Regions from separate parts of the Homo sapiens genome. Here region 2 is linked to region 1. The links come from fine-mapping of genetic effects on gene expression. Tissue or cell type: whole blood. Region 1 holds a variant in brackets; the other region holds the start of a gene. All regions are shown on one strand. Distances are between the middles of the regions.

What was found. PIP is the estimated chance that this variant, and not a neighbour inherited with it, causes the effect.
Region 2: it holds the start of KAT6A, and the variant in region 1 is fine-mapped to the expression of KAT6A in whole blood (INTERVAL, PIP 0.98).

Annotation. Positions count from the first base shown.
Region 1 is chr8:41,928,726-41,931,482 of GRCh38, forward strand. KAT6A (lysine acetyltransferase 6A) reads right to left here. Exons shown (of 17, transcript NM_006766.5): 17 at 754-2,757. Among named protein-coding and RNA genes, the nearest start is that of KAT6A-AS1, 120 kb to the right of the region's middle. RefSeq lists a silencer at 2,346-2,640. The variant CTCATT/C (reference allele first, on the strand shown) is at 1,462.
Region 2 is chr8:42,050,889-42,053,388 of GRCh38, forward strand. It overlaps KAT6A (lysine acetyltransferase 6A), which reads right to left and starts at 1,099. Exons shown (of 17, transcript NM_006766.5): 1 at 1,013-1,099. KAT6A-AS1 (KAT6A antisense RNA 1) reads left to right here and starts at 862. Exons shown (of 2, transcript NR_136589.1): 1 at 862-1,097. RefSeq lists silencers at 193-662, 763-1,392, 1,583-1,742 and enhancers at 1,191-1,712, 1,713-2,233.

The DNA of each region.
Region 1 (2,757 bases):
TAAACTTTAAACAGCATGAAATTCAGAACAAATGTCTGCTATAGGTAGTATCATGTACAGTTCCTCAATTCCTCAGTGTGAAGGGGCAGAGGAAGTGTGGAGGCCGCTAAAACTTGAACCTGCCTCACTGCCTACCACCAGAAACTAAGGCCAATTTCCCAAAGTGAAATCAAATTTTCTGGACTCTGCCTCCTGTCCACAATTCTAAATGATGAGAGGCAAACACAACCCAAGAGACCACCAAAAAGTAATCAGCATTCAGGGCCTTGAATTCTGGCAAAAGGAGAATGACGAATCTTCCTAGATTACCCAATTAGGTAAAATGAAATGAAAAAAAACCCACAACGCTTTTAAAAATACTGTTACATTATAAAATAAGATCTATAAAAATTACTCCTCCCATTTATCACAAGTCTAGGAGCTACTTGTTATTGCAATTGCTTTTTTTTAGGGGAGTGGGGGGGACGGGAATTAAAATCCCTTTAGGAGGTTTTTATATGAATGCCCCTACAAAATCCAAAGTAGGGTTACCGTGCCATGTTCCTTGGAAATGGAAAACCCATCCATATTGTTGGCATTTAAACACAGACATAAATGAAAACTGGAATTTCAAAGCAAAGGCCATGGACTTGTACTCCTATAATAAAGAGGAAAATGAAAAGACTAATGTTTATAGGTCTCTGGGTGTAGAACAAGAATTGAAGAGTTCTGACATACTGGGAAGGGAGAAAAATTCCACATGCAAGACAGACATCCAAAATGGCTCAACATAATTTATTTTTTATGTTAAAATGTACAGAGTTCTTTTGAAAGTACTTGCTAGAAAGGGGAAAAAAAGGTATTACATACAAGGAGAGGAAGGGAGGCCGGCTGGCCCAGGAGCGCGTGACATGGAGAGATACAAAGGCATCTAGGCACCCCTTCCCCTTAGCTTACAAGTCACCATGAACAAAGTACAAAGAGGTTACAAAACAGGAAAAGCAAATATAAACAGACAGGATAGACGTGGCTTCCTTTGTACATGCGGCTTTTAGAGGCATCTGGAGCTCTATTCACACACGCTAGAGATCTCTTTAAAGAGAATTTATCTTTCTTAAAATAGTTTTTAATATTCTACAACAAAGATAAAAAATTTTAAAGATGGAATGAAATGAAAAAGCTCTTATTTTAAAAGGCATCAAAGTCACTAACAGTGAGTTTTTAAATTTCTTTTTTAGAAGATTACCCAAGTTATCTTGCTAAAAATACATTTTTTTTAAACAGAAGTGAAAAAATGACAGGTACCAATATTACTGTGTTGGATAATTTCTTTTATAATATAGAAAAGAACTTTTTTTTTCTACAATAGTTCTACAGTCACAAAGAGGCTTGTGGAAAAGGGAGCTGCCCGATTGAATTTTTTATAAAGAAACAAACAAAACCAAACACAACCGCAAACCAACAGAAACTGATTTCACGGCC[CTCATT/C]TCAACAGCTTCTCCTTCTGCCTTGACCCACCCTCCTCCCAATATACCTCCCTCCCGACCCACCCCGTCCCCACCCCAACCAGGAAGCAATGACACAGCTGAAGATGTAGGGCGATGGCAGCACAGTGCACTTTCTACATAGATGACTGGGAACTGGAATAGTATATACAGAGAAACTGGGTCCTACACAGCCTTGCACATGCTCAGAGCTGAGAGCGGGAAGATGTGGAATTCTGCGTTTCTACCTAGCACGCTTGAGAAAGTCAATTAAAGTGTATTAAAAAAACCAACAAACCTGTGCATTTGAAAAAAGTTAATGCCTAATTAGTACTTTAAAAATTTATCTATATAAAATGTACAAATAAAGGAGAGAATTTAATGCTTACAGATATTTCTCTAAGCAGTACTTCCCCCTTTTGGATATTTGACTGCACATACCAAGTGGTATAATAGTTTCCATCTTCTAATGATGGAATATATATATATATATATGTGTGTGTGTGTGTGTGTGTGTGTGTGTATATATATATATATATATTTTTTTTTTTTTTTTTTTTTTTTTTACCTATCCCTGGAGCAAGTAATAGGAAGAGAATGGGCAAACTGGTTGCACGAGAGAAAAGAGAATGGAGTTGGGAGCAACACATGAACTTGCGTTATAACATTCTGCTGTCCAGATCTGCCCTACTGTGCTGGTGGTCGGTCTGTCCCTCTTCTCATTAGCCACTCACAGGAGAGGTGCTTGTGCACTCTGATTCACAGGGGATGAACTCAGGATCTCAAAAGACATACAAAAACTAGAGGTATGTATCACTTAAATAGCTACGAAACTCACACCGTGATCTCCCTTCTGACACACATCTGCGCCATCTCTTCCAACATAAAATAAACTGTTTCAATGGTTTGTCAGTTATTTTTCAAATCACTAAAATGTACAGTCATCCACCAACAATTTAAGAAAGAACCTAAGAGGCAAATCACTGGGGACTGCTATTTGAGTTTTATCAGTCAAAGGCTCAAGCATCAAGACCCTCAGTTAGCATTTCAAAGTACATACTAGAAACAAGAGGCTGGGTGGCGTGTGTGTGCGTTATGGCTGATTCACCAGGTGGTAAAAAAACAAGAGGTTAATCTCCTCTTTTTGATTGTTAATTGACCATCTCTATTCCTCCAAAGGCTGGATTTGGATTGCAAACAGCTTTTCTCTGAGATTCTGCTGTTAATTGAGACTTACAGTATTTTTGTGTCTCTGAGTGCTGAGTGGGAATATTTTAAAAAAGAAGAAAAAAAT
Region 2 (2,500 bases), 120 kb after region 1:
ACTCCCGGAAAGTACACGAGCGGCTAGAGCGAGCGCAACTCGCTTCCGACAGTCCTTCCCGTCCCCATTCCCCACCCCTAAACACGTCTTCGCGCTCTCTTTTCAAAGAGCGAGAAACTTTAAAAACTTGGATCTGCACAGCCCGGCAGCTCGCCGACGGGGCGCTGCACCGTTTCCACGCGATGGAAACAGACCCCGAGCACAAGTTAACAATGAAATCACGTGAAGGAGTTCAGAGCGGTGCATAGCCCCGGCCCAGCTCCGCACCCTAAGCTCTGGGGGCCGGCTCGAGGGCGGCGCGGGTTGCTGGGAGCCTGACAGTCGCGCACCGGGCCAAGCCGCGAGGTTGACAGGCGCCCGGCCTCCCCTCGGCGGCTGGGCTGACAGCCCGGCAGACACAACACCACACGTGCTGCGCCTCGCACCACAACACCCGCCGGCCTGTCAGCCCCGCTCGCCGCCTCAGCCCCGCTCGGATCCCCGCGCCCCCGGCCGGAGCCAAAGCCGGAGCCGGAACCCGAGCCCGAGCCCGAACCCGAGCGCCCGCGAGCGCGGGGAGAAGCGGCCCGGCCCGGCACAGCCGGCACGCGCGCGGCGGGCGGGTGGGCGCGCCCCGAGGGAGAGCGGGCTCGCCGGCTCCGCCAGCCCGAGGCTCCGCGGCCTGGGCCGCTCGCCGCCCGCCCACCCGCCGGCTCCCCCAGGGCGGGCCCGGCCGGCGGGATCGGGGGCGCGGGGCCCGCGAGCGCGGGGCCGGGCGGCGGCGCGCGGGCCGCGGGCCGGGGCAGCCGGGCGCCGAACAAGCGAGCAAGCGAGCGAGCGAGCGGGCGGGCGCGAGGGGGCGGCCACGGCGCCCCAGCCCGAGGCCTGGCGCAGAGCAGCGGGAGGCGGCGCAGGCCGCGGCGGGGCCTGCAGCGGCCCGCCGACCCCGCGAGGCAGCGGAGTGGGCCCTGGAGCGGCTCGGCCTCGGGCTGGGCGGCCGGGGGCGGCCGGGAACGGCCCCTCGGCTACTTACCGGGAGGAAGGACAGCCGAGATCCCGGGGCCCCGGGCCGGACCGCGGAGATGCCCCAAACTGACACGGCCGCCATCTTGGAGACAGTGAGCTCCAGCCGGGGGGAGGGGAGGCAAGGCGGCGGAACAGCCGCGGGGGGAGGGGAGCGTCGCGAGGGAACGGCGGCCTGGGGGAGGGAGCTGGAAGAGCCTGGGCGGGCGGCGAGGGGAGGCGGAGGCCCGGCAGCGCGGGTGGGGGGCGGCCGAGAGCGGGAAGAGCTGGGCCGAGAGCCGGGAAAGGCCGGAGGGCGGGGCGGGGCAGCAGGGAAGAGCCGGCCGGCGGGGTCACGTGGGGCCGGTACAAAAGGCCAAAGCCAGGGGAGGAGGAGGACTTGGTGGGGCTGGAGGCTGGGGAGCGGGGGTTCCTCCTCTCCCGTCTCACGCGTTTAAGTCAGACGGCGACCCGGGAGAGGAGGAGCTGGTGCACCCCATGCCACCGCTGGGGAAACTGAGGGCAGGAGTCTGGGTGGGGTGGCTTCAGTGTGGCACGGAAATCCGGCAGCCACGCAGGATGGGAACTCTCGGCGGCGTCTGTTTACAGTTAGTGAGCCCTCCCTCCCCACTCATTTGCCTGCACAGCGACTTTCCGGAGCCCGAGGGCGGGGCCTGGGGGGCGGAGAGGAGGCGGCTTCCCGTCCTCACCCCTGGCAGCTCGCCTCAGCCCCCGACGGCTCTCCTGTGTCGGTGGGAAGAGTTGGGGAGAGGGTGGAACCAGAAGCACCCGTCTTAACCCCTTTCAGCAGTGACTTCATTTCTTCCCTCCCCCAGCAGCTGAGAGGGTTCTTGGAGCTCACTAGAGCCATTTTATGGGAGACTCCACAGACCTGGGTCGTGTGACTTGGACAAGGTCACACAGCTAGTATGTGGCGCGCACCTGAGCCTGGGACTGAGATTTGTCTTATTCCAAAGCCGGTCTTCCCTTCTTGCCCTGTGCGGAACTCTTGTCCATACTTAGGGCGTTGGAACCACGAGCAGGCGGTTCTTCATGGCCTGCCTGTCCACTACTGGCTGTATGGACGTTTCTTTGTCTTGCCTTTCATCTACTTTAAACTCTTTGATGCAGAGACTGAGTCATACTTTTTTTTTTTTTTTTGAGACAGTGTCGCTCTGTTGCCCAGGCTGGAGTGCAAGTGGTGCGATCTTGGCTCACTGCAACCTCCGTCTCCTGGGTTCAAGCGATTCTCCTACCTCATCCTCCTGAGTAGCTGGGACTGCAGGCGCCCGCCACCACGCCTGGCTTATTTTTGTATTTTTAGTAGAGACGGGGTGTCACTATGTTGGCCAGGCCGCTGGTCTCGAACTCCTGACTTCAAGTGATCCGCCCTCTTCGGCCTCCCAAAGTGCTGGGATTACAGGCCTGAGACACTGCACCTGGCCAAGTCATGCATTTTTTTTTTTTCTGCATTCACTAGAAAGACAGTAGACATGAAAAAGACACTAAATGTTTAATC